2 linked regions of the Homo sapiens genome follow. The protein of the gene in region 2 interacts with the protein of the main gene of each other region in a biochemical or structural test. Each region holds a gene or a part of one and is shown on either strand. Other genes may lie near its edges.

Region 1 (5,619 bases), on a different chromosome or scaffold from region 2:
GGCAGATCTGGATTTAAACCCTCATTCCACCACTGACTGGCTGTGTGGCCTAAGCCAGGCTAATCTCTCTTAACTTTTCTACGTCTGGGGTCAGATGAACAGCTGAGTAACTACCTCACAGGCATGCTGGTAGTGCTAATGGAGGGAAATGTGGTCATGCAGAGGTGGTGACTGGCACAGATGGCAGTCACAAGGTTCCTCAATCTCTGAGCCTCAGTTTCTTCCAGTGTGAAACTGGGATGATAGGATCATTAAGGGATCTGCACTATACTTCTGTAAAACTGTTCATTTAACCAGCACTGCAGGAATAACTGGGAATAAGGGCAGAACTGGAACCCGTATCTATCCCCTGTTCAGAACCCAGTGACCTTCATTTTTTCCAGAGGCCTTAACCAGACAAACAACACAGGTGCTGGAACTATTCTGATACTCAGATGGTTGTCATCAAGAAAGGAGAAGGGATGTCATCTGATGATTCTCACTTGTAACACATGTGCACACAGACACACACACCCCCAACCTCTATCTCAGATTTTATTTTTTTTAAAAAAGGCTCCAATACAAGGCCCCAGAGTAGTGCATGCAAATCAACGACCCTCAAAGTGACAGTCATTGTCAGATAACAAGCACAATCTGCTACAGTCTGTGACCTGGTAAAGAGACCACCTTTTCATTTTGAGTCCCATCACCAACTATGCCAATGTCCAACCTACCACACAGCTCACAATGACTCAGAGGTACATTTTAGTATCTGAACAGCAAAGACATATTGAGCTGCAAGTACAATGAGTAAGTATCCTTAGTGTATTAGACAGGGTAAATACAAACAAGGCATAAAAGGGAAAAGCCAACTTCATCTGATGCCTGAATCCCTAAGTCTCTTCCATCTTTTCTCATGATCTGTGTCTAGGGAGATCTGCTATGCCATATCAAGACCTTGCTCATCTGGTGATGAGACGGGGCTGTTTGCCTTGGAAGACTAAAGAAAGGGTGAATATTCACATGAGGTAAGAACTTGAAGTTGTGGTTATAATACATAGGCCAAGTTTGCCTGCTGTCAACCCATCTCTGTAACTCCAACTTTGTGCCTGCATGAATTCTGCGACATGGTACAGCTGATGGGTAGAGAATTCTAACTCCTGTGATGTATTTACAGGAGAAGATAATCGTGGAAGAATTAAATGGAAGAATTCATAGAAGAATACAGCCATGGATAAACTTAATCAAAAGAATATGATTTTAGTTTGGTTTAGTATATTCAATCAGTCAGTTTTGTTTGTTTTTTGTGAGACGGAGTCTTGCTCTTGTCACCCAGGTTGGAGTGCAGTGGCGCAATCTTGGCTCACTGCAACCTCCGCCTCCCAGGTTCAAGCGATTCTCGTGCCTCAGCCTCCCTGAGTAGCTGGGATTACAGGCGTCTGCCACCACGCCCAGCTAATTTTTGTATTTTTAGTAGACACGGGGTTTCACCATGTTGGCCATGCTAGTCTCAAATTCCTGACCTCAGGTGATCCACCCGTCTCGGCCTCCCAAAGTGCTGGGATTACAGGAGTGAGCCACTGCACCCGGCCAGGCCTTTAAAAATAGTTTTTAAAAATGTTTCTTGTGTGTTTTTCAATGCTTTTAGTTACTTACAGATTGCTACCTGAGGTGATTTGAGGGAAGGGTATGTTTAGTGAATTAGTCTTAATCAAAATCACTAGCTAATTAAAAGAGAAATGTTCTCACAAGAAAAATAATTATGATGGAAAGCAGCAATTAGCTTCTGGAACTACCTGCTTTTCAGTTCATCCTCTTTTCAGAGAAATGAGACCCTAAGCAGGGAGGAGCCTACTGGCCATCTGAGAAACCCTCTAGAGTAACAGAGAAATGTCATGGGCCTCAGGGAAGAAAAGAGGCCTGTACCAGGCAACATCTTAGATGCCTGGTTGCCAACTTCTCAAAACAACCCATAACAACCAGCAGGGTTGGTAACTGGCTGACATTCATTAACACACTCATATGGCTGTTTGTGAACAGATCCCAAATGCAAAGCGTCCTTCACACACTTCTACCCACTCCCCATCTCCACACCCCTATACAAGATCTTTTCATTCAACCAAAAGGATAAGAAATGTGCTACAGAAATGTGAACATCAACACAAATACAGATTATTTTTTCATCAAGAGAGTTAAAACATTCCCATTATCAAGAGGGGTCTTCACCAGAATGTAACAAAATGAATTTCAGCTTTCACACCAGTAACCAGTGAAAGTATGGCCTAGAGCTAGTTACACGGCATAAAGTGACTAGTGGTCAGTTATTGTTCATTAGTTCAGATGAGTAACTGCAGAAACTCTACCCAGAGCTGAGCACATATGGCTATCATGATGTCAGATGTCAGTTAAGAGTTATGTTCCTGTAAACCAAAGCACCAGAGCTAAATTAACAATTTCCCTTTCTGGCCTTAATTGACCAACAGTTTAAGTACTGTGGTGCTACCAGCACGATCCTGGGTTGTGCTTCTTCAAACATTTCAGTTTCTCAATACTAACATTGGTAATAAAATATCTCATCAGGGCGGGCACAGTGGCTCACGCCTGTATTCCCAGCACTTTGGGAGGCCAAGGTGGCAGATCACTTGAGGCCAGGAGTTCGAAACCAGCCTGGCCAAAATGGTGAAACTCTACCTCTACTAAAAATACAGAGATTAACCAGGCGTGGTGGCCCACGCCTGTAATCCTAGCTATTCAGGGGGCTGAGGCACAAATATCACTTGAACCAGGGAGGTGGAGGTTGCAGTGAGCTGAGATCATGCCACTACACTCCAGCCTGGGCAACAAAGTGAAACTCTGTCTCAAAAAAAATAAAAAATCTCATCAGTGCCCCAAGTCAGGACACAATGAACCAAAAAGGAAGAAGGCTGATCAAATAGCCTTGGAAATTATTTTAATTTAGCTTCTGACTCTGGGAAGCTTCCCTTCTTCTGGTGATGTTCTGCAAAAGCTTCCAAATCACCGATTCCTAAATTAGAGACCCGGCCTTTTAAACAGACCCAGATCAGAGTAACTTTGCCAAAGCTCTGGAGGGAGATTTCTCCAGTGACAGACAATTGTTCTATCAGAAGAAGGGTGGGGAAACTCTTCTCACAAATAATACTAATATCAACCAAAAAGTTAACCACTCTTATTTTTTTTTGAGACGGAGTCTCACTCTCACTGCCCAGGCTGGAGTGCAGTGGTGCGATCTCGGCTCACTGCAAGCTCTGCCTCCCGGGTTCACAGCATTCTCCTGCCTCAGCCTCCAAAGTAGCTGGGACTACAGGCACCCACCACCACGCCTGGCTAATTTTTTGTATTTTTAGTAGAGACGGGATTTCACTGTGTTAGCCAGGGTGGTCTCGATCTCCTGACCTTGTGATCTGCCTGCCTCGGCCTCCCAAAGTGTTGCGATTACAGGCGTGAGCCAGCGCGCCCGGCCACCACTCTTATTTTCTAAAAAGCTCAGGACCAGATTCACATTGATACCCTGCACTGGGAGCTTAACTTCCTGAAAGAGACAAAAAAGAACTTAAACTGAGAAAATAGACCCTGGTGAAATATTCCCATCACCCCACCTTAAAAAGAGGTGCTGGGCTCTCCTGGGTCTAAACTCTCCCCTTCATAGCAGCACCTCCCCCTTCTATTGTACAGACAGGAAGTGCAGAGCAGGGGAGAGGCGGCCCCAGGTGAAATGGAACTCACAGCCTACTAGGGATGGACTTCTGTCAGAGCAGAATAGAGCTCAGTGGAATCTATCTTCTCTGTCTTGGCTAAAGGAAGGGCTCTAAAAAGGCTGCCCTATAATACTGCATAAGGAACCAAGACTAGGCAGTAGCAAATGGACCCAAGAGGTACACAGCAGCCATTTCTGCCCTGGGCCCAACAGAGCTGCATTTAGTTATATCTCGGTAGTAAAAATGTAAAGTCCCTTCAAAAGGGGTAAACCTCCGATTACAAAAGATAGTAATAATAAACAGGAAAAGCAGCAACTGAATGCTGATTCTCCCTGTTCTAGTTTCTATTTTATTATTCAACTGTAGTGGAAATACCTCAAAGTGCGCAACACAAAACAGCAGATTCCTGCCCCTCACCTGTGTGCATCTGAGTTCTCACCCTGCCACCTTCCCCATCCATCCTGCCTGCCCTCTGTCCTGCTCCACTGGCTCCTGCCAGACCCCTGGGCCCAAAGGTGCCCTCTCCACTGCTGGTCAGTCAGTGCCCCCCTTCTGCTTGGCCAGGGTGTGCTTCAGCTCCCGCAGATTCTCTGTCAGCACCTCTACCTCATCCAGGCGGCCGCACTGCTTGGCATCAAAGATGTATGCCTTGATGTTATCGATCTGCTGCAGGAGGAGCTCTTCCTCTATGGGCTCCTCAGCCTCTGGCCCACTGTCACTGTCCATCTCAAAGGGGTTGATACAGGTGGGTTCCTCAAAGGGGTTACCAGGAACCAGAGGGCTTGAGAGCCTCTGCTGGGGATGTTCGTCTTCCTCACTGAAGGGGTTAGGAGCTGGGCTGTCTGGCTGAATGAATGGATTCCCTGCCACTGCTTCCTCCTCCTCGTCCTCTTCCTCGAAAGGATTGTACTCTTTCAGGATGCGGGCTGAAGGGTCTAAGGAAACCCCTGCAGCAGGAGGACCAGTAGTGGCCTCTTCCATGGGGCTGGAGAGGTCTTCCTCATCAAAGGGGTTTAAGGAGGGCCCCTCATGTTGCTGTGGCATGCTGCTCTGGGGTAAGCGCTCCTGGCCAACGGCTGGGGGCCCAGACCACACTCTGGTGGGTTGAGTTGAGCTAAGTGAAGGGGTCTTGGGAGCTGTGCTGCTTGGAACTGGGGAAGAGCCTAGATCCAAAGCATAAGCAAGGTGGGTGCGAGGCTCTCTGCTGGGCTCCAGCTGAAAAGGGCCGATTTCTCTGAAGTCCAGGGACCGAGTCCGTGTGTGCAGGGATGCCACCCGAAACTGCTCCCTTTCTCGTTCCAACTCCCGTTCACGCAACATCTGCAGCTGTTCCCGCTGCAGGTCCTCCTCCTCAGCCTGCCTCCGGGACAGCTCGATGGCCTTCTCTGTCTGCTGCTGGTCATACTCGTCCTGCAGCTGCCGCAGGTTCTCCTGCAGAGTGCGCACTTCATCCATGCGGCCCGCGGCCTTGGCCTGCCTGATGAATGATGTGATGTTGTGGATCTGCTGGAGGAGCGGGTCTGAGTCCTCACTCTGCCCCTGACCTCCTGACAGTGGGAGCCAGCCCTCAGCCTTTCTCAAGGGGGCAGGGCCCCTGCGGAGAGATGCCACCTCCCCGTTGGCCGCTCGAGAAGCCAGGCCACTCTGCCTTTCCTCAAGCCTTCGCTGGGACTCCAGGGCAGCCTGGGGAGAGAGCAAAGCAGAGAGAAGAAACAGTCACTATGCTGGCAGCAGCCCACACTGTCACCCACCCTCTGTTGTCCCTCTATCCCTGTGCCAGTGACACTCCAATTTCTCACCTCAGGACAAAGATATCCAACTGCTAAAATCAAGTCATGTTTTTGTGTATATGTGGGCGGAAGGGAGACCCTGATTTTCAAAAATAAAATATAATGAATAAGTTAGGGCATCAGATTTTCTCAAT
Region 2 (7,043 bases):
AAAAAAAAAAAAAAAAGAAACCCCATCTCTACTAAAAAAAATACAAAAAAATTAGCCGGGTGTGGTGGCGCGCGCCTATAGGCCTGTAGTCCCAGCTACTCGGGAGACTGAGGCAGGAGAAAGGCGTGAACCCGGGAGGCGGAGCTTGCAGTGAGCCGAGATTGCGCCACTGCACTCCAGCCTGGGCGATGGAGTGAGACTCCATCTCAAAAAAAACAGAAAAAGAAAAAATAATTTAGTAACTCATGTAGCTACTCCGCCCTCAACAAGGGGAACATGAACATAAGTCCCTGTTCCTTAGGTGTGGGCTACACAGTGACTTTCTTCCAAAGGGTGCATGCAGCATGGAAAGGGGAAGGGGAGAACAACTTTACAGAGAAGCCTCACACACATCACCTCAGCCAAGTGATCATGGTTGACATCAGTCATGGAAAGGCTTGTGGATTGTATGTACCCTTGACATGATGTGATGAAAATAGCACTTTACCTCTCTGGTCCTCCTTCCCAAAACTTGGCACAGTCTACTTATGAAAAAAACACTGGACACAGCCAGGCGTGTTAGCTCACGCATGTAATCCCACCACTTTGGGAAGCTGAGGTGAGCAGATCGCTTGAGCTCAGGAGTTTGAGACCAGCCTGGACATCATGGTGAAACCTTGTCTCTACAAAAATTAGCCAGGCGTGGTGGTGCATTTCTGTAGTCCCAGCTACTTGGGAGGCTGAGGAGAATGGCTTGAGCCGAGATTGCACCACTGCACTCCAGCCTGGCTGACAGAGCAAGACTCTGTTAAAAAGAGAAAAATACTGGACAAATCCCAGTTGAGAAGAGATTCTCTTTATTTTTTATTATTTTTTTTGAGACGGAGTCTCATTCTGTCTCCAGCCCAGGCTGGAGCACAGTGACACGATGTTGGCTCACTGCAACCTCTGCCTCCTGGTTCAAGCGATTCTTGTGCCTCAGCCTCCTGAGTAGCTGAGATTACAGGTGCGTACCACCATGCCTGGCTAATTTTTGTATTTTTAATAGAGATGAGGCTTCACCATGTTAGCCAGGCTGGTCTCGAACTCCTGACTTCAAGTGATCCACCCACCTCGGCCTCCCAAAGTGCTGGGATTACAGGCGTGAGTCACCGCGCCTGGCCGAGATCCTCTTTAGATGCTTGCCCAGCACTCCTCAAAACTGTCAAGGTCATCAAAAACAATAAAAGTCTGAGAAACTGGCACAGCAAGAGGAGCCTAAAGAGACAATGAATATAGGTAACATGGGATCCTGGAACAGCAAAAGGACATCAGGTAAAAATCTAAGGAAATCTGAATAAAGGATGGACTTTAATGTAAAATACGTACTAACATAAGATGTTAATAACAGGGAAAACTATGTGTGAGGGATTGTGAGAAAACTCTGTACTATCTGCGTAACTTTTCTAAAAGTATTCTGAAAGAATAAGTTTATTAAGCCTCGGCAACATAGGGAGACCCCGTCTCTACAAAAAAATCAAAAATTGCCCAGGCACAGTGGCTCACACCTGTAATCCCAGCACTTTCAGAGGCCAAGGCAGGCAGACCACAAAGTCAAGAGATCAAGACCATCCTGGCCAACATGGCGAAACCCCGTCTCTACTAAAAATATAAAAATTAGCTGGGCATGGTGGCGTACGCCTGTAGTCCCAGCTACTCGGGAGGCTGAGGCAGGAGAATCACTTGAACCCAGGAGACGGAGGTTGCAGTGAGCCAAGATGGCATCACTGCACTCCAGCCTGGGAAACAGAGCAAGACTCCATTTCAAAAGAAAAAAAAAAAAGGAGGCCAAGGTAGGCGGATCACGAGGTCAGGAGATGGAGACCATCCTGGTTAACATGGTGAAACTCTGCCTCTACTAAAAGTACAAAAAATTAGCCAAGCGTGGTGGCAGGAGCCTGTAGTCCCAGCTACTCGAGAGGCTGAGGCAGGAGAATGGCATGAACCCGGGAGCTTGCAGTGAGCCGAGATCGTACCACTGCACTCCAGCCTGGGCGACAAGGCAAGACTTCGTCAAGAAAGAAAGAAAGAAAGACAGAAAGAAAGACAGAAAGACAGAAAGAAAGACAGAAAAAGAAAGAAAGAAAGAAAAAGAAAGAAAGAAAGAAAGAAAGAAGGAAAGACAGAAAGAAAGAAAGAAACAGAAAGAAAGAAAGAAAGAAAGAGAGAGAGAGAGAGAGAGAGAGAGAAAGAAAGAAAGACCAGCCTCAAGGTGAGCAGAGGATATCCAAGTACTGCAGGCACAGGACCAGGGAATGTTAAAGACCCCATCTGTGGAATACACATGTGAGGGCTGCTCATACCACTGGTCTGAACAGCTGCTGCCACCACTTTTTTAAGCCACCTTCACTCAGGAACGAGCCTTGTGCAGACATACAGAACAGTATCCACAGGCAGAGTCAAATTTGCTTCCACTGATCCTTGCTAAGTACTGGTCTGGGGTCGGTGCTGCCTCACCACACACAACTGCAGAAGCACGGTCGTTCTGTCCTGCCATCAGATACACACACGGCAGAAGCCAGTCAGCCGGACTGTGGCTAGTCAGGGCCGCGCCCTCATTGTCCCATTAAACCCTTCACCAGAAATGGAGATTTGGAGAGTCTTAACTTCTGGAAACTGAGTTTGTGACTTGCTTCCCATCATCCGTACTGTAACATTGATCCTATTGACCTGTTTGCTCTCCCATTTGTCTGTGAGCAACTTTCTGGGGGATGGACCAAAGATATGGCTCAAGCTGTGGGATCAGATGGATTTAAGTTTGAATCATAGGTTCACGACATCCAAAGTGTGTGAAGAAAGGAAGGGAAGTGTGTGTTAAAAGAAGTGGGCGAGGGCCAGGCATGGTGGCTTACACCTGTAATCCCAGCACTTTGGGAGGCCGAGGCGGGTGGATCACCTGAGGTTGGGAGTTCGAGACCAGCCTGACCAACATGGAGAAACCCCATCTCTAATAAAAATACAAAAAATTAGCCGGCCGTGGTGGCACATGCCTGTAATCCCTGCTACTTGGGAAGCTGAGGCAGGAGAATCTCTTTAACTCGGGAGGCGGAGGTTGTGGTGAGCTGAGATTGTGCCATTGCACTCTAGCCTGGGCAACAAGAGCAAAACTCTGTCTCAAAAACAAACAAAAAAAAAGAAGTGGGCAAGGCTGGGCACAGTGGCTCATGCCTGTAGTCCCAGCACTGGGAGGCTGAGGCAGGCAGATCATGAGGTCAGGAGTTTGAGATCAGCCTGGCCAACATGGTGAAATCCGTCTCTACTAAAAATACAAAACTAGATGGGCGTGGTGGTACACACCTGTAATCCCAGGTACTAGGGAGGCTGAAGCAGGAGAATCACTTGAACCCAGGAGGCGGAGGTTACAGTGAGCAAGATCGTACCATTGCACTCCAGCCTGGGTGAGAGGTCAAGACTCCATCTCAAAAAAAAAAAAAAAAAAAAAAAGAAGTGGGCAGGTGTTTGGTGTTTGCTTTAAGGGCAGGTTTGAATGTCTGCCCTCTCCTTTAACAACTTCAGTAGGGAGCCTACTATGCTGAGTGCCATGCCAGGTCCTAAACACACAAAGATCAAACAGGACCCGATCTGTGCCCCTAAAGGGCTCACCCACCAGAGAATGAGGCAAATAAGGAACAATGAGATAGCAGTTGAGAAGACAGCCCATGTAGGAGACAAGCCCTCAGCCCATTTGGGGCAAGGGAAGGCTTCACAGAGGAAGTGGCATTCAAACTGAGCTTTGAGAGAAAAGTAGGGAGATACAGTTTCCAGGCACGTGAGGTGCAGAAGAGCCTTCTAGGCAAAGTGAACAGTAGGCATTTAGCCCAGAGATGGGTCAAGGAGAGGCTGTATTGAATAGCGATAAGAGCACACCCCATCTCTGCCATTACTACATAGTCCCCCACTCTAACATGGGGATTAAACACAGAACCTACCTCCTGGGGTTGTCGGAGGATTAAAGGAGTCAACACATAGGGCTCACAAGAGTGCCTGGCACATGGCAAAAATAGAAGTTTAGCTTTTATTTGTATTACTGTTCTTATACATAGAGGATGGGGCTATTTAATTGGAAAAGTAATCTCTTACAATACCAAGCTATTAATGCAGAGGATGCCAAAAATATTCCGATTCTCCTCTGCCAAGGTTTTTGCAAGCATGATTACCTGGATTTTGGCACATCCTAGTTTATAAATTCTACCTAAAGCAGTGCTTCTCAAACAGCCCCAACATATGTACCCTTCACTCAAGTCAGGGGAGAGGAAACTCCCAGAAATCTGGGAGTTGAACCCAAAGCAGCTGGCTACAAGCAAAATACTGTCTTTGGCCAGGTGCAGCGGCTCATGCCTGTAATCCCAGCACTTCGGGAGGCCAAAGTAGGAGGATCACTTGAGCCCAGGAGTTCTGAGACCAGCCTGGGCAACATGGCAAAACCCTGTCTCTACTAAAAATACAAAAACTAGCCGGGCATGGTGGTACATGCCTACAGTCCCAGCTACTCAGGAGGCTGAGGTGGGAGGATCACTTGGGTCCACAAGATCAAGGCGGAAGTAAGCCATGATCGTCCCACTGCACTCCAGCCTGGGTGAGAGAGGCCCTGTCTCAAAAATAAATAAATTAATTAATTAATTAAAGTTTCCTGTGTTAGCTTCAATTCATGCAAACTTTGCATTCTAATCTATAATAGTTACAGGACTGTTTTAATATTAAAACGCTTACAACTAAGTAAAACTGAAGTGGCACAGCGTTCTCTTCTGTAAAATGGGAATACAACCCACATCAATTCTGTTCAATGTCTACAAAATGAGACAATTTGTGAAACCATCAAGCAATGTACAAGGCATCCCAGCAGACATTTTGTTTTTGTTTTAGACATGGGGTCTCATTATGTTGCCCAGGCTGGTTTTTTTTTTTTTTTTTTTTGAGATAGACTCTTGGTCTGTTGCCCAGGCTGGAGTGCAGTGGTGCAATCTCGGCTCACTGCAACGTCCACCTCCCAGGTTGAACTGCCTCCCAGGTTCCTGCCTAAGCCTCCCAAGTAGCTGGGATTACAGGCATGTGCCACCACGCCTGACTAATTTTGGTATTTTTAGTAGAGATGGGGTTTCACCATGTTGGCCAGGCTGGTCTCGAACTCCTGACTTCAGGTGATCTCCCAGCCTCAGCCTTCCAAAGTGCTAGGATTATAGGCGTGATCCACCACACCTGGCCCCCAAGCTGGTCTTGAACTCCTGGGATCAAGCGATCCTCCCAAAGTGCTAGGATTATAGGCATGAGCCACTGTGCCCAGCCCCAGCATACATTTGGTACACATGTTGAATCAGAATCAGTGTTGAGGCTGGGCACAATTACCTGAGGTCAGGAGATCGAGACCAGCCTGGCCAACATAGAGGAACCCTGTCTCTACTAAAAGTACAAAAATTAGCTGGGCATGGTGGCACACGCCTATAATCCCAGCTACTCAGGAGGCTGAGGCAGGAGAATAGCTTGAGCCCGGGAGACAGAGGTTGCAGTGAGCCAAGATCACGCCATTGCACTCCAGCCTGGGAGACAAGAGTGAAACTCCATCTCAAAAAAAAAAAAAAAAAAAAAAAAAAAAATCAGCCAGACACGGTGGCTCATGCTTGTAATCCCAGCACTCTGGGAGGCCGATGAGGCGGGCAGATCACCTCACCTGAGGTCAGGAGTTTGAGACCAGCCTGGCCAACATGGTCAAACCCCATCTCTACAAAAATACCAAAAAAAAAAATTAGCCGGGCATGATGGCAGGTGCCTGTAATCCCAGCTACTCAGGAGGCTGAGGCAGGAGAATCGCTTGAACACAGGAGGCGGAGGTTGCAGTGAGCCTGGGCAACAGAATGAGAATGAGACTGCCTCAAAAAAAAAAAGAACCTTCAAACCCCTACCTACCCATCAGAGGCAACTGCTATTTTGTGGGCATCCAGTCTGCCAGCACTGGACTAGCTCCTTTCTTTGTTTCTAATTCTGCAAGGTATTTAGCATCCCCATTTTACCAGAAGAAACACAGGCTCAGTGAGGTCAAGTAACAAGCCCAGGGTCACACAACTGGTAAGTGGGGGAATCAGGATGAGAACTCAGGTCCAACTGCCTCTGAAGTTCTAGTGCCTTCCACCCGACCACACTGCCTGTTTACTGGGCAAGGGTTAGAAGTAGAAGGTCTGGCCAGGCGCAGTGGCTCACGCCTGTAATCCCAGCACTTTGGGAGGCCAGGGTGGGCGGATCACGAGGTCAGGAGATCGAGACCATCCTGGCTAACACGGCGGAACCCCATCTCTACTAAAAATACAAAACAATTAGCCGGACGTGGTGGTGGGCACCTGTAGTCCCAACTACTCTGGAGGCTGAGGTAGGAGAATGGCATGAACCCGGGAGGCGGAGCTTGCAGTGAGCCAAGATCGCACCACTGCACTCCAGCCTAGGCGACAGAGCGAGACTCCGACTCAAAAAAAAAAAAAGAAGTAGAAGGTCTAAGAAGTACTTGCTTGGTGGGGCTGAATTTAAATGTATGATCTTGCTCTGTTTCCATGTAAATTCTAGTGACAGGAGCTCCTGGTGGCAAGCCACATTCTTCCCACTTGCAAGCAGCAGGCAGCACCACAGGAGAAACAGAGGACTAACCAGAGGCCCGCTCTGTTGCTTCCCCCTTAACCCTGCCCAGTGGGACCCCTGAGTTTACTCACTTTAACTTTCATTTTCTAGCCATTAGGACTTTCAGGTTCCCAGAAAAATTAATGACATGTAGATGTCAGCAAACTCTCAGGCCCTGAAGAGTACTGACTTGGGACTCCTAACTGTTTTGGTCCTCAGAGGCAGAGGTGAAAGGGGTCAAGAGAGAAGACAGGAGGTCGGGTAGACGCTGGGGAAGACAAAAAAACAGAGGAGCGCTAGTGATGAGGAGGGCTAAAGAGTTAAGAGTCTGCCCTTGTGCCGTGGCGCACTCAGTCTGCATGTTCATTCATTTAACGAACAAACCAGGCCGAAGAAGGGCCCACTGTTAGATCAGGTCACATCTG

The links. The genes of interacting proteins can lie anywhere in the genome.
Region 1: the proteins of RAB5C (region 2) and RBSN form a complex in vitro, tested with the Homo sapiens proteins (2 studies listed by BioGRID and IntAct, with this or other methods).

The regions. Positions count from the first base shown.
Region 1 is NC_000003.12:15,069,553-15,075,171, forward strand, and holds the end of RBSN (rabenosyn-5), read right to left. Parts: intron 5,379-5,619; coding exon 4,230-5,378; 3' UTR 521-4,229; downstream 1-520. UniProt on the Homo sapiens protein: Rab4/Rab5 effector protein acting in early endocytic membrane fusion and membrane trafficking of recycling endosomes. Required for endosome fusion either homotypically or with clathrin coated vesicles.
Region 2 is NC_000017.11:42,144,965-42,152,007, forward strand, and holds part of RAB5C (ras-related protein Rab-5C), read right to left. Parts: intron 1-7,043. UniProt on the Homo sapiens protein: The small GTPases Rab are key regulators of intracellular membrane trafficking, from the formation of transport vesicles to their fusion with membranes.